7 linked regions of the Homo sapiens genome follow. The protein of the gene in region 5 purifies or fractionates together with the protein of the main gene of each other region. This does not show direct contact. Each region holds a gene or a part of one and is shown on either strand. Other genes may lie near its edges.

What was found.
Region 1: the proteins of MRAP2 (region 5) and ARFGEF2 purify together in Homo sapiens (affinity purification with mass spectrometry; 2 studies listed by BioGRID and IntAct, with this or other methods). This does not show direct contact.
Region 2: the proteins of MRAP2 (region 5) and TEX2 purify together in Homo sapiens (co-immunoprecipitation; 3 studies listed by BioGRID and IntAct, with this or other methods). This does not show direct contact.
Region 3: the proteins of MRAP2 (region 5) and CERK purify together in Homo sapiens (affinity purification with mass spectrometry; 2 studies listed by BioGRID and IntAct, with this or other methods). This does not show direct contact.
Region 4: the proteins of MRAP2 (region 5) and CC2D1A purify together in Homo sapiens (affinity purification with mass spectrometry; 2 studies listed by BioGRID and IntAct, with this or other methods). This does not show direct contact.
Region 6: the proteins of MRAP2 (region 5) and CSNK1G3 purify together in Homo sapiens (affinity purification with mass spectrometry; 2 studies listed by BioGRID and IntAct, with this or other methods). This does not show direct contact.
Region 7: the proteins of MRAP2 (region 5) and SLC25A20 purify together in Homo sapiens (affinity purification with mass spectrometry; 2 studies listed by BioGRID and IntAct, with this or other methods). This does not show direct contact.

Annotation. Positions count from the first base shown.
Region 1 is NC_000020.11:49,029,440-49,033,703, forward strand, and holds part of ARFGEF2 (brefeldin A-inhibited guanine nucleotide-exchange protein 2), read left to right. Parts: intron 1-2,609; coding exon 2,610-2,727; intron 2,728-3,583; coding exon 3,584-3,760; 3' UTR 3,761-4,264. UniProt on the Homo sapiens protein: Promotes guanine-nucleotide exchange on ARF1 and ARF3 and to a lower extent on ARF5 and ARF6. Promotes the activation of ARF1/ARF5/ARF6 through replacement of GDP with GTP. Involved in the regulation of Golgi vesicular transport.
Region 2 is NC_000017.11:64,189,968-64,194,231, forward strand, and holds part of TEX2 (testis-expressed protein 2), read right to left. Parts: intron 3,923-4,264; coding exon 3,592-3,922; intron 1-3,591. UniProt on the Homo sapiens protein: During endoplasmic reticulum (ER) stress or when cellular ceramide levels increase, may induce contacts between the ER and medial-Golgi complex to facilitate non-vesicular transport of ceramides from the ER to the Golgi complex where they are converted to complex sphingolipids, preventing toxic ceramide accumulation.
Region 3 is NC_000022.11:46,685,804-46,690,067, forward strand, and holds part of CERK (ceramide kinase), read right to left. Parts: coding exon 4,189-4,264; intron 1,404-4,188; coding exon 1,331-1,403; 3' UTR 1-1,330. UniProt on the Homo sapiens protein: Catalyzes specifically the phosphorylation of ceramide to form ceramide 1-phosphate.
Region 4 is NC_000019.10:13,926,108-13,930,371, reverse strand, and holds part of CC2D1A (coiled-coil and C2 domain-containing protein 1A), read right to left. Parts: intron 3,856-4,264; coding exon 3,782-3,855; intron 3,706-3,781; coding exon 3,647-3,705; intron 3,552-3,646; coding exon 3,500-3,551; intron 3,395-3,499; coding exon 3,295-3,394; intron 3,198-3,294; coding exon 3,107-3,197; intron 2,480-3,106; coding exon 2,342-2,479; intron 2,249-2,341; coding exon 2,184-2,248; intron 994-2,183; coding exon 930-993; intron 839-929; coding exon 712-838; intron 295-711; coding exon 218-294; intron 131-217; coding exon 83-130; intron 1-82. UniProt on the Homo sapiens protein: Transcription factor that binds specifically to the DRE (dual repressor element) and represses HTR1A gene transcription in neuronal cells. The combination of calcium and ATP specifically inactivates the binding with FRE.
Region 5 is NC_000006.12:84,054,111-84,058,374, reverse strand, and holds part of MRAP2 (melanocortin-2 receptor accessory protein 2), read right to left. Parts: intron 3,064-4,264; 5' UTR 3,057-3,063; coding exon 2,930-3,056; intron 1-2,929. UniProt on the Homo sapiens protein: Modulator of melanocortin receptor 4 (MC4R), a receptor involved in energy homeostasis. Plays a central role in the control of energy homeostasis and body weight regulation by increasing ligand-sensitivity of MC4R and MC4R-mediated generation of cAMP.
Region 6 is NC_000005.10:123,518,301-123,522,564, forward strand, and holds part of CSNK1G3 (casein kinase I isoform gamma-3), read left to right. Parts: intron 1-4,264. UniProt on the Homo sapiens protein: Serine/threonine-protein kinase. Casein kinases are operationally defined by their preferential utilization of acidic proteins such as caseins as substrates. It can phosphorylate a large number of proteins. Participates in Wnt signaling.
Region 7 is NC_000003.12:48,863,888-48,868,151, forward strand, and holds part of SLC25A20 (mitochondrial carnitine/acylcarnitine carrier protein), read right to left. Parts: intron 1-4,264. UniProt on the Homo sapiens protein: Mediates the electroneutral exchange of acylcarnitines (O-acyl-(R)-carnitine or L-acylcarnitine) of different acyl chain lengths (ranging from O-acetyl-(R)-carnitine to long-chain O-acyl-(R)-carnitines) with free carnitine ((R)-carnitine or L-carnitine) across the mitochondrial inner membrane, via a ping-pong mechanism.

The sequences.
Region 1 (4,264 bases), on a different chromosome or scaffold from region 5:
AAATATTTTAGAAATAGGAACCAGGAATACCACATGGAATATTCACTGCAGACTTATCAGGAGAAAAAATTTTAAGCAGCTCAACTGTGGAATGAATAACTAAGCTGTAATATGTCCTAAATTATGATATTATGAAACATAGTCATTAAAAGTGAATTTTTTTTTTTTTTGAGACGGAGTCTTGCTCTGTCGCCCAGGCTGGAGTGCAGTGGTGCAATCTCAGCTCACTGCAAGGTCCACTTCCTGGGTTCAACCAATTCTCCTGCCTCGGCCTCCTGAGTAGCCAGGATTACAGGCGCGTGCCACCATACCTGGCTGGTTTTTTGTATTTTTAGTGGAGATGGGGTTTCACCATGTTGGTCAGGCTAGTCTCAAACTCCTGACCTCAGGTGATCTGCCGACCTCCGCCTCCCAAAGTGCTGGGATTACAGGCATGAGCCACCGTGCCCAGCCTAAAAGTGAATTTTTTTTTTTTTTTTTTTTTTTGAGACAGAGTCTTGCTCTGTCACTCAGGCTGGAGTGCAGTGGCGTGATCTTGGCTCACTGCCACCTCTGCCTCCCGGGTTCAAGTGATTCTTCTGCATCAGCCTCCCGAGTAGCTGGGACTACAGGCGTGTGCCATCACACACCTGGCTAATTTTTGTGTTTTTAGTAGAGACAAAGTTTCACGATATTGGCCAGGATGGTCTTGAACTCCTGACCTCGTGATCCCCCCACCTCGGCCTCCCAAAGTGCAGGGATGGGCGTGAGCCACTGCGCCCGGCCTAAAAGTGAAATTTTTAAGAAATAATTTTACTTAATGTGGGAACTTTTTCATAATACAATAATTTTTACCCCAAAAAAAGCTGCAAAAGTGTTTTTACTTGGAATTTTCAGCAATTGGGGCATTTTATTTGTTTTTTTAGAGTCAGGGTCTTGCTATGTTGCCTAGGCTGGTCTCGAACTCCTGGGCTTACGAGCTCTTCCTGCCTCAGCCTCCTGAGTAGCTGGGACTACAGGCGAGCAATTTTTCTTTTGAAATCTTAGCAAAAAAAAAAAAAACTGGAAGGAAATATGCCAAAATATTGTCATGTATCCCTTAGAATGATGTAGCTATTTTTCTTTATAATTTTTTTCATAATTTTTTACATATATCAGTTACCTTACAATGAGAATAACAAGTCATAAAGTGAAAAAAGAATTAATTAATTAAAGGAGGCACCAATGGCTCATTTCAGCTTAAGCCCAAAAGACAAATACCTACAGTCTCATAAAGTTTCTCTAAAGGAGATATGTAGGGCCGGGCGCGGTGGGTCACATCTGTAATCCCAGCACTTTGGGAGGCCGAGCCAGGTGGATCACAAGGTCAGGAGTTTGAGACCAGCCTGGCCAACATGGCCCTGTCTCTACTAAAAATACAAAAATTAACCAGGCATGGTGGCAGGCGCCTGTAATCCCAGCTACTCGGGAGGCTGAGGCAGGAGAATCACTTGAACCCAGGAGGCAGAGGTTGCAGTGAGCCAAGATTGTGCTGTTGCACTCCAGCCTGGGCAACAAGAGCAAGACTCCGTCTCAAAATAAAAAAAAGAGATATGTAAATGTCAAGTTTTTGGCATGTTTTTTAAAAAAGCAATTAAATGTGATTGTGAGGAGAGAAAGGCAGTTATATAATTATGAGTAATAAGCTCTTGTGCTACAGACATTGATTGAGTTCAGCCCTAGCCATGTGCCAGGACTGAGCCAAGTTATGACTTAACATATTTACTTCATTTAATCCTCACAACAACCCCTTGAGTTTGGACTTTTTTTTTTTTTTTTTTTTTTTTTTTTTGAGATAGTCTCACTCTATCGCCCAGGCTGGAGTGCAGTGGTGCAATCTCAGTTTACTGCAACCTCCACCTCCTGAGTTCAAGTGATTCTTGTGCCTCAGCCACCTGAGTAGCTGGAATTACAGATACGCACCACCACACCCAGCTAATTTTTCTATTTTTAGTAGAAATGGGGGTTTGCTACATTGGCCGGGCTGTCTCGAACTCCTGGCTTCAAGTGATCTGCTTGCGTTGGCCTCCCAGAGTGCTGGGATTATAGGCATGAGTCACTGCACCTGGCCAGGCAATTTTTTATCTCCATTTTATAGCTGAAGAAACTAAGGCTCAGTGATTTGCCCAAGATAGCACAGCCAGAGTGGGTGCTCAATAGTTATTGCAGTGGCTGGGCTCAGAGGCTCAGGCTCACATCTATAATCCCAGCACTTTGGGAAGCCAAGGCAGACAGATTGCTGAGCCCAGGAGTTCAAGACCAGCCTGGGCAACGTGGTGAAACCCCATCTCTACTAAAAATCAAAAAAATTAGCCAGGCATGGTGGCGCAAGCATGTAGTGTTAGCTGCTTCAGAGGCAGAGGTGGGAGGATCAGCTTGAGCCCGAGGAGGTCAAGGCTACAGTGAACCTTGATCACACCACTGCACTCCAGCCTGGGCCGCAGAGCAAGACCCTGTCTCAAAAAAAAAAAAGTAATTAAAAAAAACATGTTAAAATAATTTTAAAAATAGCACAAGAATGAATAGTTCTCCCCTGAATGTGAGATGTTAATCAATTGTTTGATATGCCTCCCCCTCTCTAATTCTTCTAGTGTTTGCAGTGAAGCTCTTGCCTATTTCATCACTGTGAATTCTGAGAGCCATCGGGAGGCCTGGACAAGTCTCTTGTTGTTACTTCTAACTAAAACCCTCAAAATAAATGATGAAAAGGTATGAACAAGTAAACTCTGACCAATTTTCACTAGGACATAAAGTTTGGGTTGGCTTTTTACTCAAGAGTTTGCAGTAACTATTTTCTCAGTTCTCCCAAGGATGGTTACGTGACTAGCACCATTCTAGATGCATTGGAGAGAAGTTAATCCGTTATGGACAATGGGTGCCACAGGATATTAGGGCTTTTTGCCTGGAAGAACAGTAGTTGAGAACGGCTGAAGTGTAGACCTCATGTGTTGCTGTTAGGAATGGTATGGTGAGTTTCAGTGCAGGAAGAGAGGGTTAAGATTGTGAAGCACCAGTTTTGACCTAGGAACCTGCTTTACAAAATAAAAGAGCTGTTGACTTTTGGCAGCAAGACTATCCAAATTTAATTAAAGTTAAATATAACTGAAAGAAGCTTTAATTTGCAAGGTTTCTTCAACTTCTTTTTTTTTTTTTGAGACAGAGTCTTGGTCTGTCACACAGGCTGGAATGCAGTGACGTAATCTAGCTCACTGCAATTTCTGCCTCCCAGGCTCAAGCGATCCTCCCACCTCAGCCTCCTGAGTAGCTGGGACCACAGACACGCGCCACTATGCCCAGCTAAGTTTTTGTATTTTTGGTAGAGACAGGGTTTCACCGTGTTGCCTAGGCTGGTCTCGATCTCCTGAGCTCAAGCGATCCACCTGCCTCGGCCTCCCCAAGTGCTGGGATTATAGGCGTGAATCACTGCGCTCGGCCCCAACTTTCTAATAGCAAGAAAAGCACCAATATTGTAATAAGTTCCAGGGTGAGATTAACACTTCTGAAAAACTGGTGCCCAAAAAAAAAAAAAATTGTCTAATTTTATCTGTTTCTCTCCCACCTCAAGTTCAAAGCACATGCTTCAATGTACTACCCCTACTTGTGTGAAATTATGCAGTTTGACCTGATCCCTGAGCTCCGAGCAGTTCTGCGGAAGTTCTTCCTACGGATAGGTGTTGTGTATAAGATATGGATACCAGAAGAGCCATCACAGGTACCAGCAGCACTGTCACCAGTGTGGTAGCCCTGGCTGCCCAGGCCAGTGCTGCAGCTCTGCAGAATGTTCAGCATGCCATTTCTGACTGGCACATCTCGTGAAGTTTCATAGAAACAAGGAGTTGGCATCTTGGATCTCAGAATGGCCTGGAAACGGATGGCCTCTACGCTGTTCCATCACAGTCTCCAACTAAGGCTTATGGTATTTCATTAAACTGTTGCATACCCAGTTAGCACAGTAGGTGGGGAGTCTGCTTCATTTCTATCATTCCATTTTTCTGATTAAACTGTCAAATCTGTCATTGCATATGCCATCGTTTTCTAGCAAAATCCCATGATTGGCTATAAACGTTTTGTAAGAAGTCACTCTCCTTGAAAATACTGAACATAGCTGTATAGGTTTGTGATTATTAGAGAATATGTTAATAAAACTTCTTGTAACGGCTAACTGCCACCTAAAATATGCTGGGTTTTCTGTTGTTTGAGTGTGTTAGAGAAATTTGAATGTTTTTGTCAGTTACGAGTCAGCCGT
Region 2 (4,264 bases), on a different chromosome or scaffold from region 5:
GAGCAAGACTCTGTCTCAAAAAAAAAAAAAAGAAAGAAAGAAAGAAAGAAATCAAAAAATCAAATCAAACCATTTTCTTCTTAAGAGGCTCCAACCATCAGAACCATAATTCCCCAGAGCCTCACAAAGGGTCACGCAAGCCATTTCTTAATTTAAATTTTAGCCAGATAATTTCCAGCACTTTAATATTTTACACTGCATAACTATAAAAATACATTTTTGTAACTTTTATTATCCTTATACCGTTTTCATGTTTAGCATTTTTTTAATTGCTAGGATAAAAGCTACATCAAAAACATTAAAAAATAGATGTAAACTAATATTACATTTAATATCCTGGATTGGATCCTGGAAGAGAAAAAGGACATTAGTAGAAAAACCAGTGAAATCCAAATAAAGATTACAGTTTAGTTAATAGTAAAAAAGAGAAAAAAAGATGAAATAAACAGGGCAGCATGATACCAACACTTCAAACCAAACTGATCCCATTGTGACTGAGCCACACTCCATGTAGAGGAGGAAAGGAACCCCCTACGAGGCCTGGCTGGTGCTCATTGCCCACAGAACAGCCTCTTCACATCACCTCACCCTTCCCCTGAGTGGGACAAAGCACAGGAGTCGTCACTGCACTGTGGGTCTCATGGACAATAGCCCCTGATAAAGTCAAGGACCTTCCTGTGCAGAGACCATACTGGAATTCTGCCAAATGACCATGTGGCTTTCCTGCTGTCTCCAGATTCTTATTCCTCCGGGAGGCCTTTCCTGACCTGCAGCCTGGGCACTGCTGGCTGGAAATGCAGAATCTCAGCCCCACCCATGACCTCGAGTCAGAACCTGCATCTTAAGATCCCGTCAAACATTCAAGTCTGAGAAGCACAATCCGTGTTGCTAGAGAAATCTATGATTTTGGTGACAGCATCCCTGAGGGAGAGGACAGGGCAGGTCGTCGAGCAGGAAGACTTCTAACTTCTTGGTACTGATAGATGTACCTGGCCTCAGAGAATCAGACCAGTCCTACCTTCACGGCTGACCACCTATGTAGTCACTGATTCAGAGATGGTTTTGAAGAACAGCACAGTGCTCACCAATTTACCTTGCTACTAGTTTAATCACACTTTTGGTGGCTTAAACTTACCATAAATATCTCAATTCATAGCTTTCAAAGGCAACCCAGACTTACAGATGTACGAAGACATTAGTGGTGTGTGAGCCTTGCTTTAGTACCAGTGAGTGCACTGAAGGTTTTCCCACATCTCTGACTCTTACCATTATGTTTGTTGTGTGCTGAGTGGAACTTTTGGCAGGATTTCCAAAAATTGAACTCGTTAAAAATAATCAAATGCTTTATTTAAGTCCATGAATAACATGCCTCTTTTGAAGGTGCTCTGGGGGGCCCCTAAGTACCTAAGGTGGTGTTTCCTGGTGGCCCCATATACCCCCGTGGGTTACCTGATTCTGAGCTTCAGTGCCTAGACCAGTAGACCTTTATATTTCCAGTAGGAATACAATCTGAGCCACATAAACAATTTTAAATTTTCTAGTAGTCACATTTAAAAATGTAAAAAGAGGTCGGGCACAGTGGCTCACGCCTGTAATCCCAGCACTTTGGGAGGCCAAGGTGGGCGGTTCACTTGAGGCTGGGAGTTTAAGATCAGCCTGACCAACATAGTGAAATCCTGTCCCTACTAAAGATATAAAAAATTAGCTGGGCGTGATGGCGGGTGCCTGTAATCCCAGCTACTCAGGAGGCTGAGGCAGGAGAACTGCTTGAACCTGGGAGGCGGAGGTTGCAGTGAGCCAAGATCGTGTCACTGCACTCCAGCCTGGGCAACAAAGCTAGACTCCATCTCAAAAAAAAAAAAAAAAAAAAAAAAAAGAAAGAAAGAAAAAGAAAGGTAAAAAGAATACAATTAATTTGAATATATTTTTAACCCAATATATCTAAAATATTATTTCAACATGTAACCAATATAAGAAGTTATTAATGAGATATTTTACATTCTTTTATTGGACTAAGACTTTGAAATCCAATGTGCATCTTATACTTAGAGCACACCTCCATCTGGACTGGCCACACTTCAAGTGTTCAAAAGCCACATGGGGCTGGTGGCTACCGTAAGAAGCAGCACAGGTTTAGACCTACCAGGAGAGCTAGGCAGTGCCTGGTGCTGAGGAGTTCTTACCCACTTGAATTTTCTTTTACTCAGTGTTATGGGTTGAATTGTGTCCTCCAAAAAATATGTTAAAGTCCTAACCCCAGTATCTCAGAATGTGACCTTATTTGGAAACAGAGTCATTGTAGATGCCATTCATTAAAATAAAGTCATACTAGAAACAGGGTGGGCTCCTAATCCCATATGACTGGTGTCCTTCCAAGAAGACACAGAGCCACTGACAGACAATGCCATGTGATGATAGGCCAGTGTGGAGTGATGCGGCTGCGGGCCAAGTATTGATGGTCACCACCAGAAGCTGCAAACACGCAAGGAAGGATTCTATGCAGAGTCTCACAAGGAGCATGGCCCTGCTAACACCTTGATTTCAGACTTCCAGCCTCCAGTACTGTGAGAGAATACATTTCTGTTGTAAATCACCCAGCTTGTGGTATTTTGTCCCAGCAGCCCTAGGAAATAAATATATCTAGTAATCTCCCCATTCGTCTTGATTCTTAAAAGGGACTTCTTAGATCTCAGTGCTGGGATTAGGATGGAATCTGGTGTTGAAGCTGACAGAATGGAAGGTTAGCAAAGGAGTTAGGGCAAAGGCTCAGATTATGTTCCAGGGGAAGGAACCAAAGCACTCTGAAGCAATGTGTGACACTCATGTGACCAGCATAACTCCCGGATCAACACAAATGCCTTGTTAGAGAAAGCCCCAGAGTGGCTCCCTCCTAGTCTTTGTTTCAGATCCATGTAAGAAAGCTTTCCCTAATAACACCCACACTGGTCTTGTCCCAATTATTTGTTACACCACACTCATTTTAGCATGGCAATTTGTGAACACCTGACTCATACGTGCCAGTTTTGCATAACAGGCACAACACCTGAAGGACAGGGGAGCTACTGCTTTTTACTGGTTTTGTGTCTCTTGCAGCTCCAAGCCCAGCCAAAGCTGAGCAAAGAGGTGCTGCATGGTTATCAATCCGAATGACCACGATCTGACCTGAATGGTCAGGAAGTGCAAGGATTCTGCATTCTATGGCAAGCTCAGGCTCGGAAGACATATTGAGGGTCAGGTGCTCGAAAGTACCAGCCTGAAGGATCTCCCTGACTCACCTGCCATCTCAGAACCAGGGTTTTTCTGTTGCTGCTTCTCTCAGGGGAGTCACATTATATACAAATAAAACATAACCAGCAAAGGCTAATAAACATCATCTGCAAATGGATCCATCATTGGTTAAATGATTTGGGACAGACGGCTGCAGTGATCAGCCTAGATGGTAAATGAGTCATGAGAATGCACATTAGGTGGCAGACAACCATCAGTTCAGGGTGGGCTTCCTTCCTTCCTTCCTTCCTACCTGGCATTCTTTCTCTATTCTCCCTAGTGGCCCTTTAAAAATGCATAAGCATTTAGCACAAACATCATTACCTGGTTTACCTCCAGAGACACCCGATGACTTCTTGATTTCCGACTTTAGCTTAGATGCCAGAATAAATCTCCTAAACCATTCCTCTTTTTCTCGGCCAGTTCTCCCAAAGAGATAGAGTATCTGATCTCGCTGGCTAGATCTTGTTCCCTCCTGAGGGCGGGGTGGCTTCTTAGGGTCCTCACTTCCCTCAGCTGGCGGCTTCTCTTCTGAAGTCTCCTTATCAGTCTGAGCTTTAGACATAAAGTCATCTTGCTGACCAAGCTCGATACAAATGGGGTACTTTTTATTCCAGATTCGCTTTCGAGCCAAAGTTTTAGGTACAAGATAAATCTACAGAGAAAGAAAAATGATGATTTATATATTAAAGATTGGCTACACTATGCATTAATATTATGCATAGCACAAAGTGCAAACCTTATAGACTTTTTGACTAAAATGATGAATATGAAATAACTTTCAACACTTGTTCATAACATGACTACAGAAACTGGAATTTTCAGAAGTGTCTTGTTATTCTTCAAAATCATTCCACAAAGTAGGCATTTAATAATTTTGCGAGAGTTATAAATATCCGTAATTTTCAGGTGGCAGTAGCACAATAATAATGTTTAGCTGCTTATCATCAACTATGTTTGGCTATCAACTGAATTTAATGACCTTGGACCAAACTTA
Region 3 (4,264 bases), on a different chromosome or scaffold from region 5:
TGCTGCCTGTTAAACATGAAATCACTAAGGGAGCTTCTGCAAAACCCACCCGGCAGCATGAGGAACGGTGTCTACAGCGTGCTCCAAACGGCCACGGCCCCGCTCCTTACAGATCAAAGTTTAAGCCGCATATTCTCATATTTCAAACAAAACTACGTTACAGACATCATCTACGTGGGCACGGATACACACTAAACAAGGACGTAGTACACAATTGAGGGGTGCCCCGGGGAGCGCGGCAGGAATGCCTTCCGGGAAGAATCCTCTGGTCGCCGGAGCCCTCGCGCTGCAGAGGAAACCAGCGATCCATCGTGGCTTCGAGGCAAAAGACAGACATCCGAGACGCAGTTTACACTACTCTGGCTTAAAAGGACAAGATGTTCAATAAATATAGAGAACTCAGTGTGAAGAAAAGACAAGGACAAATCTGGACCACGTGTACAGACTTCAGGCCCTGCCTCAGAGGAGTCCTGCGGGAGTCCAGGACCGGCCCCTCCTCCACGGATGGCCAGCTTCCTCCTGACTGCCCCCAAGCCCGGCTGTGTTAAGCACTTCGCGTCGATATAAAGCATTGGTATTTGACATTTTAACAGTAACAAACTTGCCAGTGCTTTACACACTGCCAGCTTCCAGAGCTTATCATCCGTGCTCCCAGAACAGACGCCAAGGTCATGCTCCCAGCCGGATTGTCGTAGCCTCGCCGCCGTGATGAGGCAGGTGTGGAGGCCCCAGCAGCCTTCCCGGCGCTGGCGTGGAGGCCCCTCCCGCGGATCACCTGAAGCAGGGCCACGTTGCATTGCAGTTGCACAGTATTGTAAGGATCAAGCAGCGATGTCCTAACCGTAAACGAAGAGGAAGGTGAAATGAAGGCAAAGAGAATCAACCACTTCCCAAAACTTGGCCACAAACCGTTACAGAATAAGTCCTGCAAAGTGGATCAAAGTGACCCACTGCTACCTCAGGCCCAGATGGTGTGACCTGCGTGGAAATCATATAATGTCCCTAACATTATTGCAATAGAGCCACTAACGGGCCATTTTCTAAACTACACTGTTGACATCGTTAAAACCTAAGAGGCCAGTGCCCCCAAGTGAGCAGCTGCATCCGCTGAGAGTAAGCGGCGTGGGCTGCAACCCGCAGATGCGTACAGAACTGAAAATGCCAAATATGTACACAAAATTGTTGACAAAAGGGTTTTCTTCTAAAATCAAGATTTAACTATCAAAAATAAATTTCTACATTTAAATGTATATATCAACATAATTGGTCTGTAATAATTATCTTAAATAGTTTTCACACTTTCCCAGTTTGTGAGCAGGACGCCGGCTTCTCAGCTGTGTGAGTCTGGCTTCGGATTCTCTTCAATTCCTCGTGCAAAGAGTCGAACCAGCTGGCAGTGGACTCTGCAGAGACAAGCGGCCACGTGTAAACCCCACGTGTCCCTCACTCAAAGCTGGCCTGAGCCCCACTCCTGGACAGGGGCTGCAGTAAACCCCACGTGTCCCTCACTCAAAGCTGGCCCTGAGCACCGCTCTTGGACAGGGGCTGAAGTGGGGGTCCATCCCCCATGGAACGGTCAGACGTCACCGTGGGCTGTAGGAGTCCAGCCCACAATGACGGGCCCTGGGCGTGGAATAATTCACTTAGACTCCCGGGATGCCGAGTTTGTAAAGGGGTTGCCAATGGCCAGGTGGGAAATCTGGGCATCGGTAGACCTGACTCGAACTCCAGCACCCCCATGGAAAGCAGAGCGTCCGCTCCAGTGTCTGCCCACTCCACCCACCCACCCACCTCCATTTTCTCAGCAGTACTGAGCGCGCAAGGCCTGCGAGGAGTCTGTGCGGGGCGACTCAATGCGTGTAAGAGATGTGTGAGGAATGCTCAGATGAGAAGGACAGGTGGCCCAACGCCAGCAAGAGCCTTCGGGCTTGAGGAACAAGTTGGGGGTCCCTGGAGGTCCCCTGCCCAGGGGCTCGGTGGCCACAGTGAGTCCGTGGGTGAGTGCCATCTTCCCACACAGGACAGCTCTATTTATCTCATTTATTAATGATATCACAGCCTCCTCAGACGTATTTCAGTAACCTAAACCCCTTCATTAAGTGACAGGCTGGGGCAGGGCACAGTGACTCACGCCTATAATCCCAGCACTTTGGGAGGTCCAGGCGGGCGGATCACCTGAGGTCAGGAGTTTGAGACCAGCCTGGCCAACATGGTGAAACCCCGTCTCTACTAAAAATATAAAAATTAGCCAGGTGTGGTGGCGGGCGCCTGCTACTTGGGAGGCTGAGGCAGGAGAATTGCTTGAACCTGGGAGGCAGAGGTTGCAGTGAGCCGAGACCTCGCCATTGCACTCCAGCCTGGGCAACAAGAGCAAAACTCTGTCTCAAAAAATAAAAAAATAGAAATAAATAAGTGACAGGCTGTTTCCATGGAGCTGAGCTCACACACACACAAATTATATTTTTAAAAGCGACGTGCTGCTCAAGGCATAGCCATATTTATCAAGATAGACAGGACGTATTTCAAGAATGCCTGTCCTGATTTTCAAATTATTCTATTTCTTTAATAAATACATACACCAATATTAAAAATAATCCCACTTCCCAAACTTGTCAAATGAGTTGACAGAGGAAAGTCCCTGTGCACGGCTGCCTGGGGTGGCCGGTGTTCCTGGGACCTTTCGACAGCCTCTTGCCATCACCACCGCCCTGACAGAAAGAAAGGGGGCGCGTGGCCCTGGGCCTGGGGAGGGGCAGAGACCTCCTCCCTTAGGCTTGTTCGGATGCGAATGGGAGAAGCTTTCTTAGAGCCGCAGCTGGCTGGCTGAGGAGTCACTGAAAGTGGGGCGCTGTCCACAGAGATGCGTGCATCCTCTTACATGCTGTGACTTAAGGCACCCAAGGGCCATCTGACACCCAGCTTTCGTTGCAGACAGGCGTGGGCCTGCTGACCAGCCTGCTATCGCTCTCACGCCAGCCACACTCTGTTAACGAGCGTCAAGCTGGGCTTCCTTGAAGTAGACCGAGCTCTTACCAACATCTGCCAAGAGTTCAGAATCCACCTGAGCTCTACCGTTCCCCAGTCTCATGTAATTTGCACGCCCACACCTAATTCAGTGGCCTTTTGAAAAAATCAACTTGCTTGTTACTGGGTCTTTCCATGGAGAAACAATTTTCTTTGCACTCAGATTCCATCTGGTTATGTGATACATCACAGACTTCCAAATACAATGGGCCCCAGTGGGTGTGGGGAGGACACCACTTCCCACCCTCCGCCCAGCCAGCCAGAGGAGGGGTGTGGCACCTGCCCCAGGGAGACCGAACATCCGTGTGTGGCCACACCTGCCTCCCCGCGTCCCCTAGGCTGCGTGGCCTCCAGCACGGGGCGTCCCTCTGGGGCTCCTCCTCTCCTTCCCATCCTCGGGGTGCCCTTCCCAGCCCTGCTGCCTCCTGCCCCTCCCTGCACGGAGCACCTGCACTTGGTGATTGACTGTGGCCCTTGAGGCCAGCGGTTCCCTGGTGGATTCAGTGGACAAAGGACTGCCTGTAAAGGCGGTTTCCTTTGTTTGCCTTTTGAAATTTTTTTGAGATGGAGTCTCGCTCTGTCACCAAGGCTGGAGTGCAGTGGCATGGTCTCGGCTCACTGCAACTTCTGCCTCCTGGGTTCAAGCGACTCTCCTGCCTCAGCCTCCGGGGTAGCTGGGATTACAGGCATGCACCATCACACCCGACTAATTTTTTTTGTATTTTTAGTAGAGACGGGGTTTCACCATGTTGGCGAGGCTGGTCTTGAACTCCTGATCTCAAGTGATCTGCCCGCCTCAGCCTCCCACCTTTTGAATTATTTAGGAGAAGAGAGAGAGAATGCCAGGGCAAAGAGCCCAATGCCAGCCTGGAGCACAGGGTGTGGAAGAGGAAAAGAATGAAATGGAGGAGCTTCAAACACCCATGAAAATTATCTGCAAAACAAAATGCTGAGGACTCGGCACCCTGGCATCTTTCCAGAATGTGGGTAACGGCATCTCATTCGATATTTGACATAGGGAGAGAAAAGTGCATTTATAAAACATTCTTACGTTTTGTGTTTATAAAGCCCCAGGGAACCCCCCACCCTGGGTGGGGCAGCTTGTGACAGACACCTCAGGGCTCAAGGGGATGGCGCTGGTGGCTGGAGGACCCCTGCACGCACCTGACCTCGATGGCAGGGCTGTGCAGGACCTCCCCGTCGCAGTTCCAGGAGCTGTTGGAGACGGTGCAGCAGCAGG
Region 4 (4,264 bases), on a different chromosome or scaffold from region 5:
GGGGAGAGGAGGCCACTGGGGTCATGGAGGTGGGCTACGACCACAGTGATCCCCCAACCACCCCATCTCCTAAGCTGCTTACCTCACTCTCTACCAGATTCCGCCTATAGAGCGCCTCCTTTGCAGCATCCTGTGGGGGATGGGCATTCAGCAGGTAGTCCCTGCAGGCCCCACCCTGCCCGCTGCCCAGTGCCCACCCGGCCCGCGACCAGCTCACCCTGCTGCCATCGTTGCCCAGGCGCCGGGCAGCCTCCGTGTAGAACTGCAGCTGCCGCTCCAGCTGGGCTGCGTATTCTGAGAATGGATGGCGGGGGAATGGAGGCTTAGGGTGGGGCCTCACTGCCCACAACCCTCCTGGACTGTGCCCATCCCCAAGCCCGTCCCCCGCCAGGTGCCCATCCCCGAGCCCCTCCCCCTCCAGGTGCCCATCCCCGAGCCCCTCCCCCTCCAGGTGCCCATCCCCGAGCCCCTCCCCCTCCAGGTGCCCATCCCCGAGCCCCTCCCTCTCCAGATGCCCATCCCCGAGCCCCTCCCCCTCCAGGTGCCCATCCCCGAGCCCCTCCCCCTCCAGGTGCCCATCCCCGAGCCCCTCCCTCTCCAGATGCCCATCCCCGAGCCCCTCCCCCACCAGATATGCATCCCTGAGCACCTCCCCCCCCATGCCTATCCTGGAGCTCCTCCCCCACCAGATGCCCATCTCCAAACCCCTACCCCGTCGGATGCCCACACCCCCCTGCTCCAGCTGTGCCCTCTGCCACTGGCTGCGTTGCATGATGTCCTGGTACTGCTGGGCCACTTCTGGGGGCACCGGCCGCCGCGCCTGCCTGAGGGCCAGGATCTAGAGGATACAGAGGGTCCTGTGAGGATCCTGCCTGGGCCTGCAGACTCCCCAGTCCTGCCCCATGTAGCCCGGCAGGATGGATACCCACCTTCCGCTCCAGACGCTCTTGGTCAAACGCCAGCACACTGAGGCTATGCAGGGGCCGGGCTGATCTAAGGGGTGGAGGAAGGATAAGGGACTGCAGAGATTCCCCCAGCCCAACCCTGTTAATTCAAAAGACACACTGGGCTGGGCACAGTGGCTCACGCCTGTAATCCCTGCACTTTGGGAGGCGGAGGTGAGTGGATCATGAGGTCAGGAGTTCGAGACCAGCCTGGCCAATATGGTGAAACCCCGTCTCTACTAAAAATAGAAAAAAAATTAGCTGGGCATGGTGGTGTGCTCCTGTAGTCCCAGCTACTTGGGAGGCTGAGGCAGAAGAATTGCTTGAACCTGGGAGCTGGAGGTTGCAATGAGCCGAGATCACACCACTGCACTCCAACCTGGGTGACAGAGCAAGATTCTGTCTCAAAAAAAAAAAAAAGCCGAGCATGGTAGCTCATGCCTGTAATCCCAGCACTTTGGGAGGCCGAGGCAGGCAGATCACCTGAGGTCGGGAGTTCGAGACCAGCCTGACCAACATGGAGAAACCCCATCTCTACTAAAAATAGAAAAATTAGCTGGGTGTGGTGGCGCATGCCTGTAATCCCAGCTACTCAGGAGGCTGAGGCAGGAGAATCGCTTGAACCCCAGAGGCGGAGGTTGCTGTGAGCTGAGATCGCGCCATTGCACTCTAGCCTGGGCGACAGAGCTAGACTCTGTCTCAAAAAAAAAAAAAAAAAAAAAAGACACACTGGGCACTGGGGGTATGGTGGGAGACAGCCGAGAACCACCCGGTGTTACTGATCCCAAAACCTAGCGGGGATGATGGCTGCACACCCAGGAAACTATGATGCCTAGTGGTCAGGGAGGGCTTCCTGGAGGAGGTAACAGCCAAGTTGGGATCCAAAGAAGGAATCAGAGGTGGGCAGAGGAACAAGGAACACCCCTACCCTAGGTAGGGGTGTTCAGGGCACTGGAACCCACAGAAGTCCAGAGGCCAGTGAAAACTATTCATGGACATGAACCACAGGAGGGAGTAGGGAGAGAGAAGCCTGGATATGTTGACAATGGTCAGATCACAAAAGGTTTTAAAGACCAAACCAAGGAGTTTAAACTGGATCCTCTGGGAAAAGGGGTGCCAAGAAAGGTTTTGCAGCAGGAGAGGGACGTGGTCCAATTTGTGCCTGGTGGGAAACTGTCCAGGTGGGGCTGAGAGGGGAATTGGGTGTTTTCTCCAGCATGCCCTGGCCCAGATACCTACCTGTTCCCTGACTCCCTTGCAGGGGCAGGCACAGGAGGGGCCTTCCCTTTGGGCCCAGCAACCTGCTTCAGAGGAGAGAACCAGTCCTGTGAGTCCTGGGCCCCTGAACCAAGCTTCCCTCCCTGGGGTTGCTGATGGGTGGGGGTGGGGGGTCTCACTGTGGGCACAGCTGCCGGCACAGGGTCAATGACCAGCCACCTCTCTGTCGTCGTCTCCAACTGCTGGGCTGTCAGTGGCTCCCGAATCCGGACCATTACCTCCAGTCGCCCCCCTGTGGGCCGGCGACCATCCAGGACCTGGGTGGGGGTAAGGAGAAACTGTTGGTGGGAAGCAGGAAGTGACTAGAGGCCCAGGGCCAGGACAAGGGAGAACAAGACTGGTTTTTTTTTTTGGTTTTTTTTTTTTCTGAGATAGAGTCTCGCTCTGTTGTCCAGGCTGGAGTGCAGTGGTGCAATCTGGGCTCACTGCAAGCTCCGCCTCCTGGGTTTACTTACGCCATTCTCCTGCCTCAGCCTCCCGAGTAGCTGGGACTACAGGCGCCCGCCACCATGCCTGGCTAATTTTTTTGTATTTTAGTAGAAACAGGGTTTCACCATGTTAGCCAGGATGGTCTCGATCTCCTGACCTCGTGATCTGCCCGCCTCAGCCTCCCAAAGTGCTGGGATTACAGGCATGAGCCACCATGCCTGGCCAAGAGTGGTTTCTAAAATATGAGCCCATGGTATGGCTGAGATACCAGTTGATCATAATGGAGTGGGGTACTGCAAGTATTTAGGGCTGGGCAGTAGGGAGGTCTGAGGCTCTGAGGGGAGGGGCTGGGTCAACAGACAGGCTCATAGAGGGCTCAAGGCAGGAAGTGTTTTAATAATGTTAACGAGTAGCATGGCCATACCGGAGCACGCGGATGAATGTCCACCTCTCACCTCAAGGATCTCCCGGACCTCACATGCTATCTCCAGTGCATCCAGCTTCAGCTGGGCTGTCCCCAGCACCCGGTCAGTCTTGAACAGCCCCCTGTGTGCATGTGTGTATAGTGGGGACAGGATGGTTGGTTCAGAGGAGCTCCCCTCCCCTGGAGCCCACCCAGCGGCCATGGCTCTCTCTAGCTCACCCCTTGTGAACCACTTCGAACTTGATGCCCTTGGTCTGGATGGCCCTTCGGAAGCCACGGTGGCTGCGGTTGATGCAGAGTTTGAACTGCTCCTTGAACTCTGCAGGAGGAAGGAGGGAGAGGAAGTTGGGTGGGGTCAGGCCATTGTCTTATGTCCCTTCTGCTGCAAGGGAGTAGGGGTAGGGTGCTTCCAGCCGAGGCTCACCAGGGGAGTCTGTGTTCTTGATCACACTGGTCTTGTCTTTCTGAGCTTCTTCCTATGACCAGAGAGGAGGCAGGAAATCTAGGGGGCCTGGGACCTGGCTTTGGCCCACTGAGGCTGCAGCCCTCCCCTCCTCAGCTCCCCACGTACCACGTTGGGATAGGGGAAGTCAAACCGAACAAAGACATCCAGATCGCCAGGGGACAGTCCTGTGGGCAAACAACGGTCAGAGCTGGGCAGAGAGGGGGTCCCCATGACCCTGACCCTTGCCTACAGCCCCCTCACCTGGGGGTGTGGGCAAGTTGATGCCCTTCACGATGAAGAGGAGCATGTCGTTGCTGCTGAGGTCAGGGAAGATCCTTCCGGGTGGGCAGGTGGGCAGGCAGGTGGGCAGGGAAACAGAGGCACCTCAGTCCCACTGCCCGCCTGCCTTCTCTTCCCCCAGTGGGGGCAGGGAACAAACCCCACCCTGGCCTTCGGGGGTGTCTCAGCTCCTGGGCTCATTTTAGAATCAGACAGACTAGAGTTCTCTGTTCAGGTTGGCAATGGATCACTTTCGAGTCTTTTCTTCAGTCTGTGTATATTTATTTGGTATCTACTGTGTGCTAGGTACCCTAGCTGCTGGGTGATATTCCCTTCACTTAACAGTTGTTGAGTCCTACTAAGCATCAGCCAGTGCCCTAGCTGCTGGGAGATCTTTCCTTCATTTCCCAATGTTTCTTGAGCACCTACTATGTGCCAGCCAGTACCCCAGCTGCTGGGGGACCT
Region 5 (4,264 bases):
CTCTTACACATACCGCCAATCCATTGACAAATCTTGCCAGATCCATCTTTTAAAAATATCCAGAATGTATGCATTTCTCACCACTTCACTCTCCCTACCTGGCTCCAAGCCACCATCATCAGCTGCCTGGACTATGGCAAAAGCCTCCTGAATGGTCTCTGCTTCTAATCTCATGCCTTTCACTCCGCAGTTGCAGAGTGATCTGTTGAAACCTAAGCCAGATGGCACTCCTCTGCTCCAGACCCTCCAGTGACTTCTCAGAGTAAAAGGCCAAACAAAGTCCTTAGCATGACCTCTAAGGCCCCCCCATGTCCTTGTCCCCACAGCCTCTTTGACTTCGTTTCCTGCTGTTCTGCCTCTTATCACTCCCCTGGTACCACGCTGGCCTCCTTGCATGATCCAGTTCACTCCCGCCAAGGATCCTTTTCTGGGATGTTCTTCCCCCAGATATATTATAGCTCAATCTCTCACTTCCTTCAGGTCTTTTATCAAATCTCTCCTTCTCAGTAAGGCTTTCGATGGCAATTCTATACTGTCGCCTCCACACTCCACATCCCTTTACCCCCACTCTATTTATCCTTTTATATTGCCATCTGACATTATCTATTTAACTATTTATTGTCTGTCTCTCCCACTAGAATGCAAGCTCTATACAAGGAAATATTTCTGTCTTTTCAGTTCACTGTTGTCTCTCCAGTGCTTAAAATAGTACTGCACATAACAGGTGCTCAATAAATATATATTGAATGAATGAATAAATAAATAGGTTTCCACTTTGTTGGTGCCAAATCTGTATCAGATACATGTCCACTTCTGATACATGATAAGGTTTAATATTGGATTCAAAACTGATGGCAAAAGAATTCTCAAGCACCATCTGAGGTTGCTTCTCAGATGAAACACCCTTTGAAGGTAGGAATCTTAATTTCAGCAGAGGAACTCAGTCTAAAGATGGAGCTATTGTTGCCAAGTGTGATCCATTACAGGTAAGGCAAATAAAGATAACTGTTATGGTCATTCCTGTCCGCAATGAGTGCTTCCCCTTGAAATGTCCTGCTTCTGTTCTTTTGAATCTGCATCTAATTAGCTTTGAATTTTGCCCAGCAAAACAAGGAGTCATACTTGAAGGTCAGAGTCACAGCATTTTTAAATGAAAGAGACTGTACCAGAGCACACATTTCAACAGTTGACTTGATCTTTTCACTTTCCTGTATATCTGGGGTTTTGTGTTTGTTTATTTTTTGTTCTCAATGTGTCGCATATATTTTCAGGTTCCTGAAGCTAAGGGCTGCTACTTATCAGCTCTCTTATATCAGAACAGTAAGTGCTCAGGCATTTTTGTTTTATCTTGACGTGAATATTAAAATTAACAAAAGCAATTGTTATTAATGGTATAGTAGGTAAAGTAAGTAAGTAAGGAATGAGTCACACCTCTGCCTATGTTTCTCATGAAGTTTTCCAGCTATAATTATTTCTAGAATGTAATATCCTCAAAAAATATTTTATTCAATTGTCTCTGGAAATGTACCAACCAAAATTACAGCAGCAGGCCTGTCTTCTGTGCTTCTTAAACTAAGGAAAAGAGATAGGAGCAAGCTGACACAAAAGTAAAGTTGATGTCACCAAGCAGTAAAAGCCCACATTTCAAGAAAATATGTGGCAATTTTCCCAGTCATTTTGATATCCACTATAATTCAGAACAAGCAATTGTCCTTACATAAAGGTTATCCTAGAAAAACAACATATTAAAGAATTTAAGTAAATTAAAGAAGGTGATTTCACACCCAACAGCCTTCTCTCAGATAATCAATGACAGCATACCTTGATAAATGCCATGTGCTTTTTTTCCACAAAGAAATACTGAGCAGATGTCAATAAAGGAATGAATGAAAGTATTTAATTATTACTACTCACTTAAGGGGTAAAGGACATATGGTTTAATTAATGATTTTTGCTAAAGGAACAAAAATAGAAAGCCCTTCTTGCAAAAGAGCACCAAGTTGGTGCAAGAGATCATGAATGCCAAGACAGGTCAGGATAGAAGCAGCCAGGAAATAATTAAAGGAACAAAAACACTTTCTTTGCTACATTTGTTTCTCTGATTCTAAGCCCTCTTATATTTCCTAATGTGTCCCACTAACCTGGACCAGTTAAGAGCATAAAAATTTTACAGTGCTGTGGATAATTCACTCTGACAAAAGTGAACATTTCAGGGATATTTACGGGGTTACCAAGACAGGATCTGAGACTGGGCAGCAGTTCCTGCCTACCATGTTAACTGTTAACTCTACCTAATGAAGCAAGGATGTTCCATGCTGGCCAGTCAGCATTCAGTTATGACTGGAGTTGAGTAGCAACGTCTCACAGAATTACATTTCCTTGCTCTGTGCTGGACCCTTAATTACTCCAATAGCATGAAACACAATTCATGCCTAGAACACAGTGTTAGAAATGATCGCAGGCTATTCTGGTCCATCATTATGAGCACACATGGATACACTGCTCTCCACAGCTCCAGGAAACCAACTGGGATGAAAAGATGCTGCTGTGTTACAAAAGAAGGTTCTTCAAATAACAGTTCCAGATCCTATTTTTATACATATTTTTGATAGTTCAAACATTCACAGTTTGGAGGAGCTAAAAAAGCAAATGCTTTTTAAAAATTCTCAATCTCAGCTTGACATTGATTCATGTTCTCCTACTATGGGAATTTTTTAGTCTTTCATCAATTAGAATCACCAAGGCCCTCCTGTACCATTCCTGAGCAATCAGCCTATGTGTGGAGGCGAGATGTTTTGTAGAATTTGGGAGGTAGAGGACAGAGAGTTCTGTAAAGAAGAAAGAATGCTCAGGAGAAGTAATCCTTGGGGATTTCACAGGTTAAGAGAAATACAATTATGCTTTCAATGAGGAATTGTATAAAACTTACATTTATGAGCCTTCAGTCCTTCAAAGGAAACTGGTCCAATCTCATAATATTCATATTCCCAGGTGTAATCAGAATTAGATGCCGATTGCTGGGAGGTTCTGTTAGAAATTAACCTCTGGGCGGACATCTCCGACCTGCACAAATGGAGAAAGTCAAGCGCAGAACCTGTTAATTCATCCAGAGCTGCACAGTTACCTTAATTACTCTTGATCGCATTCAGGAGTTTGGCAGCAAACCCCTTGAGGAGGTCTTACCTCCTAGGCCAGGAGAGGTTCTTACCAGCTGCTCACACCTCATATCATGTGGCCACTACTTCCTTTTCTCTTGCCACTAGAGTGGAATAATGTATTTGAAATCAGACACTGTATATTTTTTTGAACTTAACCCAATGCCTGGCACATAACAAATGTTCAGTAACTGATGAAGGAAAGAAGGAAAGGAGGGAAAGAGTATGTCAAAATCTCTGAGCTTACAGCTTCAGCCTCAGCACCTATACCTGCAAGAGTATGTAAAGAGCCTGCTGAAACTAGTTCATTGCTGATACTAATTTGATGTATTACTCAATCTCAGATTGACATTGATTTATGTTCCCCTATAAGGGAATTTTTTAGTCTTTCATCAATTAGAATCACCAAGGGCCTCCTGTACCATTCCCAAGCAATCAGCCTATGTGTGGAGGCGAGATGTTTTGTGGGATTTGGGAGGTAGAGGACAGAGAGTTCTGTAAGAAGAAAGAATGTTCAGGAGAAGTAATCAAATTAGTATCAGAAATGAACTAGCTCAGTAGGTATCCATTCAACACCTACTATGCAACAATGGAGATGAGCAACCTAAGGTTTTGTTTGTTTGCTTTTCTTGCTTCCAGTGGGTTTGGAGGAAACTAAGTTTAATAAAATGGAGTGAATAAAGAAAAACAGGCAGCAAAAGTTGCATAGTGGATCTTGCAGAAGATACTCAACAGAAGTCCACAACTTGTCCAACTGCTTACTCCTGAAATTTATGATATTTTCAGGATTTCCCAAGTATCTTTGTTAACTGTGACTATTTTAGACCAAAAAATCCTGACTTCTTTGGGAGAAGATGGTTGCACTGCGCAGCACGGATACCGAAGGTGATAAGTCAATGCAGCCTGTGTTCAATAACTGTGTTTGAGCACCTACTGTGTGCAAGACACCGCACACTGTGGGGTGGGCAGAGATGCCTGAGACAGATCAGTACTCCACAGACCTTCCCTTATAATGGAGAAAGGAAGACAAAGTGACAAATAGCAGTAACATAAGGGAAAATCTGAATGAAATGTCAGCGGTAACAAAGATTCACTGAGCAGTCACCAGT
Region 6 (4,264 bases), on a different chromosome or scaffold from region 5:
GTATATGTGGTATGCTATTTATTTTGGTGTAACCACATTGCTTGCTGAATTACAGTAGATGCTGAAATGGCACATTGAAGTATGAAGGTAGGGTGGGTGGCTCCAAGCTAGTACTTGAGAGCTCTGGTCTGCCCCTCTGTGATTTTCTTGGCTGTTTGTCTTCTGTGTGTTGGAGTCATCCTAAGGCCAGCAGCAAGATCACATCTAGACATGCACTGGCCAGAGGATGGAATGGATCTCTCTCTCTCTTTCTGTCTGTGTCTCTGGAAAAGCAAATACATCTTTTGCATAAGCCTACCAACATATTTTTCTCTTCGTATCTTATTGACCAGAATTAGGTCACATGAACGTCCTAACTAGTTATCATAAGGGAAGTAAGGTTATCATGGTTGGTTTCTACTAATCAGGAGATACCTTCTGCAATTGGTGTTGGGATCACATTTTTCTGAGTTAGATGGAAGAGGGAGGATATTTTAAAAAAATTGTGGGAAGGAAGAATTTGGGGGATATGGATGTTAGAGAGATGATAAATAGTGATCGCTGTGTCTACCTGTTTTGAAGCGATTCTCGTGCTTCAGCGTCCCAAGTAGCTGGGATTACAGGTGCATGCCACTGCACCCAGCTAATTTTTGTATTTTTAGTATACATGGGCTTTCTCCATGCTGGCCAGGCTGGTCTCGAACTCCTGGCCTCAAGTGATCTGCCTGCCTTGGCCTCCCAAAGTGCTGGGATTATAGGCTTGAGTCACCGTGGCTGGCAAGTTACTTTTTGAGACGGAGTTTTACTCTTGTTTCCCAGGCTGGAGTGCCATGGCATGATCTCGGTTCATTGCAACCCCTGCCTCTTGGGTTCAAGTGATTCTCCTGCCTCAGCATCCTGAGTAGCTGGGATTACAGGCAGTCGCCACCTTTCCTGGCTAATTGTTGTATGTTTAGTAGAGACGGGGTTTTGCCATGTTGGCCAGGCTGGTCTTGAACTCCTGACCTCAGGTGATCTGCCTGCCTCGGTCTCCCAAAGTGCTGGATTACAGGCATGAGCCACTGTGCCCGGCTGGGTCTGAATATTTTAGGAGCTAAAAACACTACTTTATTTTTTCATTGGCTAACTTTGAATCAATAAAATAGGTGGTGAAGTTGAAAGATTATAATTTTTTTCTATGAAACTCATGAAGCCATTTAATTTTACATTAAAATTTTTTCCTATAAACTTGTTTAAATTTTTTTTTCTGCATTGTTGCTTTCCTTCCTCACCATGAAGTTGCCCATACCTTTGATTTCATTGATTACTTTGCTTATCATATCTAGGGGAGAATAAGTGCATTGAGGAAATGGGAGTTTCTTGGTCAGAAGGATTTATTTTGAATCCTGGAATTCCAGTGAGATTGGAGGAAAGGATGGTTTTTACATATTTTGAGAGCAGCAGAGTTGGTAAGGGGTTGGGGAGGAAGGGAAGGACCATAGGATTTTAGACTTAAAATGAATCATAGGAAGATTGAAATGCTCAAGCCACACACCTGATTAGTAGAACTCTTATATCCTAATTACTAGTGGAGTGCTCTTTCTGAGTAAGAATTAGGAGGCCATAATAATCTTGTCTACTTTACAGTTTTGCTCAGGACTGTGGGCTACCAATGTAAATCAGTCAGCTAATCACCTTTAGTACAGATACCTGTGTTCTTAGGCTTTGGAAAAATTTAACCAGAAGTTTTCTTTTTTTTCCAGTAAAATAAGTAAACAGACAAAATTTTTCAGCTTGCCTCAAGCAGTCAACAACAATGACAACATCACACAGAAAGACAGGCAGACACACACACATGGAATAATCTTAAACCTAGCCTGCTTAAATGAAAATGCAAAAGCAGACTGTTTGGGACAATTCATTATTTTATTTTCAAGAAAATGATCTTAAGCATTTCTTTACCATCAATATATGTAAATGAAAGGAATATATATGTGCATATATACTATACATGTATACATAGATACATATATGTATGGGTTGTAAGTATATGGAGTAAATCCATCCATCTTCTGGAAGAATATTTATGTTAATGTCAGTTGTTTATAAATGGTGAGATTTAGGATGATTTTTATTTTTATACTTCATTTACTTCTCTATATTGTTTGGGTTTTCAGCTGTCACTGTGCATTATTTCTACCATCAGAAAAAACAGTAATTTTTTTTTTTTTTTTGAGGGGGGTAGAATCTTGGGGTGGGATGTGTTTTCTACCAGTTTAGATTTTAATATATAACTGCTTTCCTTGTATATTACCATGAATAAAGTGTGCCTCAAATGTATTGATACTTTGCAGATTTCTTTATGTTTAAAATTGGATGTATTAAAATTACTTATCTTAAAATTTTAAATTGAAATTGGCCATATAATATCTTTTGGTACAAATATACATTATAAAATTAGTGGACTTCTGAATATTTTGAAATTATTGTGTTATTTATTTTTTTAGTTTGTTTGGTTTGACTTCAGGTGGTATACTAGGCAGTGTATTAGACTGTGATTTATTAGAGTTAAAATTATATTCAGAATTTCCTTTAGTAAAAAGGGAAGTGAAAATGTTTTTTTTCTTTACACCCACTGTGTGTCATGTTTATTTTCTATTTCTGTGAAATACTTATTTTATATTCTAGCAATGAATACTTTCAAGTGGCAGGCAAATATATTAGGTAATCAGGACAGAAGAGAGAAAATTTATGGTATTCTATAAGTCTTAGGGTGTGCAAATTTATGACTACAGGACCTTTTAATAAAATTCTAATTTGGAGTACAAAAATAGTCTAGTATTGTTTTGGAGATGAAACTAGTAGGTGTCAGTTTTAGATGACCTTGAAAAAAAGTGTTTATAGATGCATATTTTTTACAAAACATTATTTTCTTTTCTACATTTATTTTAGGGAATCTGACAACAGTCTGACTCTCCCTACTCCAAAAATGTAAATCTTTAAATCTTAAAGATGTGGAATCTTGTGATGCCAGTTTTTATTTTAAAAAAAGGATCTTTACTGAGTACTTTTTCTGTCATACGAGTATCAGGATATATTGTTGCTGATGTGTCTTTATATAATTGAGATTCTGCAAATGTTTGTAGTTAATAAAGTATCAAAATATAATCAGCTCCTTAAGATAATTGTTTTGAGTATTTTCTGATATCTATTGAAAGTCGATAACTAGAATGCATATTGTGAGTTTGCTTATTATTGTATGCTTTGCTGTTTACCTTAATACCTACTAATGAAGGTGGTTTTTTTAAGACTGAAAAAGAAATCCTGAGCATTTGGGAATGAGAATATCCAATAAGCTAAAATTAATTTTACTATACACACTTGTTTAAAAATTTCCAGTTGAAAATTAGTAATTTTTCTTCTGTGACAGAGTAAATGAAAGAAGAAAAATGGACAATTTTAAAGATAGTTCATGCAGTCCTTGCTATGGGCTGGGAATGCTAACATTTAACTAAATAGATGAGAGGAGGGAAGGATTTGTGGAGAAAGTTTTTACTAGTGGTTCTTGGCCCGAGTTCATATTACAGTTTTCTTGGGAGCTTAAAAAAAAAAGACAGATGTTGGGATTCTACCCATGCTAATTTATATTCCATAAATAATCAGTAGGGCCTGGAAAGGGCTAGGGCATTGATATATTTTAGGATTTCTACAGACGATTCCAGTGTCCTGCAGGGTTGAAAATAACTAATTTCTCCTTCTTTTTACACTCTCAGCCCTTTAAAAAAATGGCTTTCTTTTATTTTCCAACTGTCTTTTTAAAATTTGAGGTGGAGGTATGAAGATGACACAGAAGAAAATGCAAAGAAAATATTAGCAAGAGAATCAAGTTAAAGTAGTGGCTTCTGCTCATAGCTTCATACAGTTCCTCAGATTCGTTCCAGGACCCCTCATGGCTATCAAAATCCAAGGATGGGCTGGGTGCTGTGGCTCACCCCAGCACTTAGGGAGGCAGAGGCAGGCGGATCACGAGGTCAGGAGATTGAGACCGTCTGGCTAACACGGTGAAATCCTGTCTCTACTAAAAATACAAAAAAATTAGCGGGGCGTGGTGGCACACGCCTGTCGTCCCAGCTACTTGGGAGACTGAGGCAGGAGAATCGCTTGAACCTGGGAGGTAAAGGTTGCAGTGAGCCGAGATGACACCATTGCACTCCAGCCTAGGCAATAGAGCGAGATTCTGTCTCAAAAAAAAAAAAGAAAAAAAAAATCTGAGGGTGTGGCCAGGTACCTGACATAAAATGGCACA
Region 7 (4,264 bases), on a different chromosome or scaffold from region 5:
GCCTGTAATCTCAGCTACTCAGGAGGCTGAGGCAGGAGAATCGCTTGAACCCAGGAGGTGGAGTTTGCAGTGAGCCGAGATCGTGCCACTGCACACCAGCCTGGGAGACAGAGCACAACTCTATCTCAATCAATCAATCAATACAAGAAATGGATCCCATTCAAAATAGCAATAAAAGCCGGGCACGGTGGCTCACGCCTGTAATCCCAGCACTTTGGGAGGCCAAGGCAGGCAGATCACCTGAGGCCAGGAGTTCGAGACCAGCCTGGCCAACATGGTGAGAGCCCCCATCTCTACTAAAAATACAAAACTTAGCTGGGCGTGGTGGCAGATGCCTGTAATCCCAGCTACTCAGGAGGCTGAGGCAGGAAAATGACTTGAACCTGGGAGGCGGAAGTTGTAGTGAGCCGAGATTGCACCACTGCACTCCAGCCTGGGTGACAGAGTAAGACTCTGTCTCAAAAAAAAAAAAAAAAAAAAAAAAAAAAAGCAACAAATATGTGAATTAAGCAATAGGCTTTGTATAAATAAAACTCTAAAATATCTGAGGATTACAAAATAAGAGGTCAATAAAAAGAGTCCTAATTCTAGTTGGGAAAAGTTTTCAATAAGAAAGATTTCTATTTTTCTAAAAATAATAAATGTAAGATAATGTCAATTGAGTATCAATGGTTTTTTTTTTTTTTGGTATAACTTCCCCAAAGTATCCAGACATATGTACCTGGTATGTCTGAGGAACAGAAGGAAGGTCATGTTATCTGAGAATGCTGGAGCCAATTCACAGTGACCTGGGGGGCCGTGGAGGATTGGGCATAGGAATAACATATTTACAGAATCCTATCATTGTTATGTATGTACAGACTATAAGAAGGGAAACAAGTAAGGAGGCCCTCACTGTCATCCAGGACAGCGATGAAGGTGGCCTGAAGTAGTATGGCCACAATGGAGATGGTGTGAAGGGATGGATTTGGGATAATGTTGAAAGCCAGCCTAATTGCTCAACAGATGGAATCTAAACCGTGGGAGAAAAAGAGGAATTTAAGAGGACTCCTGGGCTATAATCCTGAATAATTACAAGGATGCTATTGTTACCAACTGAACTGGAAAATGCTGAGAGTAGAGGAGGTACAGGGAAGACCAGGAGCTCAGTTTTGTACATGATGACTTTGAGGCACCTATTAGCATCCACATAGAAATGTTGGATAAACTAGTCTGGAGTTCAGGAAAAGTCTGAGTTGGAGATATAATTTTTTTTTTTTGAGACGGAGTCTTGCTCTGTCACCAGGCTGGGGTGCAGTAGTGCAATCTCAGCTCACTGCAACCTCCGCCTCCTGGGTTCAAGTGATTCTCCTGCCTCAGCCTCCCAAGTAGCTGGGACTACAGGCACGTGCCACCACACCTAGCTAATTTTTGTATTTTTAGTAGAGATGGGGTTTCACCATGTTGGCCAGGATGGTCTCGATCTCTTGACCTCGTGATCCATCCGCCTCGGCCACCCAAAGTGCTGGGATTACAGGCGTGAGCCACAGCGCCCACAGAGATATAAATTTGAGTCATCAGCATAAAAATGGTGTCTAAAAGTCATGAGACAAGGCTGGGTGCGGTGACTTACTCCTGTAATCTCAGCACTCTGGGAGGCTGAAGTGGCCAGATCACTTGAGGCCAGAGTTCCAGACCAGCCTGGTCAACATGGTGAAACCCTGTTTCTAAAAAAAAAAAAAAAAAAAAAGTCCCCCAAAATTAGCTGGGTGTGTGCCTGTAGTCCCAGCTACTTGGGAGGCTGAGGCACAAGAATCACTTGAACCCAGGAGGCCTGGGTTGCAGTGAGCTGATATCGCGCCACCGCACTCCAGCCTGGGAGACAAAGCGAGACTCTGTCTCAAACAAAAAAAAAAAAAAGAAAAGAAAAGAAAGATAAGTACTGAGAACTAACCACTGAAGTGTAAAAGTCACTAGTGACCAGCTGGGCATGGTGGCTCACGCCTGTAATCCCAGCACTTTGGGAGGCCGAGGCAGGTGGATCACGAGGTCAGGAGATGGAGACCATCCTGGCCAACATGGTGAAACCCCGTCTCTACTAAAAATACAAAAAAAAAATTAGCTGGGCCTGGTAGCGTGTGCCTGTAATCCCAGCTACTCGGGAGGCTGAGGCAGGAAAATTGCTTGAACCAGGGAGTCGGAGGTTGCAGTGAGCTGAGATCATGCCACTGCACTCCAGCCTGGCGACAGAGCGAGACTCTGTCTCAAAAAAAGGAAAAAAAAAAGTCACTAGTGACCTTGATAAAACCACTTTATTTGCAGTTGTGAGGCAAAAGCCAGATTGGAGCAGGTTTAACAATTAGAGGAGAGGAACTGGAAATGGCAGGTATAAAAAAACCAGAAACAGGCTGGTGTGGCAGCTCACGTCTGTAATCCCAGCACTTTGGGAGGCCAAGGTGGGTGGATCACCTTAGGTCAAGAGTTCAAGACCAGCCTGGCCAACAAGGCAAAACCCCATCTCTACTAAAAGTACAAAAATTAGCAGGGCGTGGTGGTGTGCACCTGTATTCCCAGCTACTCGGGAGGCTGAGGCAGGAGAATTGCTGGAACCTGGGAAGCAGAGGTTGCAGTGAGCCGAGATTATGCCACTGCATTCCAGCCTGGGTGACAGAACAAGACTCCATCTCAAAAAAAAAACAAAAAACAAAAACAAAAACAAGAAACAACTTTTTCAAAGAGTTTTTGTGTAAGAGGGAGCAAAGTCATGAAGCATAGAAATTGGTGTGGAAAAGACTGGACAGAAGTTTTTTTGAGACAGGTTCCCGATGATCTCTGCTCACTGCAGGCTCAACTTCCTGTGCTCAAACGATCCTCCCACCTCAGACTCCTGAATAGCTAGGGCTACAGGTGCATGCCACCACACCTATTTTTTTTTTCTTTTTTTGAGACGGAGTTGTAATCTTCTAGCCCAGACTGGAGTGCAATGGCGCGATCTCGACTCACGGCAACCTCTGCCTCCCAGGTTCAAGCAATTCTCCTGTCTCAGACTCCCGAGTAGCTGGGATTACAGGCACCTGCCACCATGCCTGGCTAATTTCTTGTATTTTTAGTAGAGATGGGGTTTCATCATTTTGGCCAGGCTGGTCTTGAACTCCTGACCTCAGATGATTCACCCGCCTCGGCCACCCAAAGTGCTGGGATTACAGGTGTGAGCCACCGCGCCTGGCCCATGAATGGCTAATTTTTGTATTTTTTTGTAGAGATGGGGTTTTGCCATGTTGCCCAGGCTGGTCTCAAACTCCTGGGCTTGGGTGATCCATATACCTCAGCTTCCAAAAGTGCTGAGATTATAGGTGTGAGCCACTGTGCCCAAAGTTTGTTTTTGTTTTCTTTTTTGAGATGGAGTTTCGCTCTTGTTGCCCAGGCTGGAGTGCAGTGGCGAGATCTCGGTTCACCACAACCTCTGCCTCCCGGATTCAAGTGATTCTCCTGCCTCAGCCTCCCAAGTAGCTGGGATTACAGGATGCGCCACCATGCCTGGGTAATTTTTTTTTTTTTTTGTATTTTTAGTAGAGATGGGGTTTCTCCATATTGGTCTGGCTGGTCTTGAACTCCTAACCTCAGGTGATCCACTCACCATGGCCTCCCAAAGTCCTGGGATTACAGGCGTGAGCCACCGCACCCAGCCCAAAGTTTGTATTTTTAAGATGAAAAATGCAAGCATGTTTATGCCTTTATTCCTGATGAGAATGATCAAGTGGAGAGCAAAAACTGATGTCAGTGGCTGAGGGAAAAAAAAAAAACAAAAACAAATAATGTCTGTGGCTGGGCAAGAGGAGATGGGATCCAGTGCACAAAGAGGCCTGGGATCAAGCGGAAGCACAGGCCATCCTTGGTAGAAACAAGCAGGGTGGCCGGGCATGGTGGCTCATGCCTGTAATCCCAACACTTTGGGAGACCGAGGCAGGCGGACCACCTGAGGTCAGGAGTTCGAGACCAGCCTGACCAACATGGAGAAACCCCGTCTCTACTAAAAATACAAAAATTAGCCAGGCGTGGAGGTGCATGCCTGTAATCCCGGCTACTCGGGAGGCTGCGGCAGGAGAATTACTTGAACCTGGGAGGCGGAGGTTGCGGTGAGCCGAGATGGCGCCACTGCACTCCAGCCTAGGCAACAAGAGCAAAAACTCCATCTAAAAAAAAAAAGAAAAGAAAAGAAACAAGCAGGGCGGCAGCAGGTAGGTACATGGAGGTAGCAGAAGGCATCTGGTGAAATCCTCTTCTG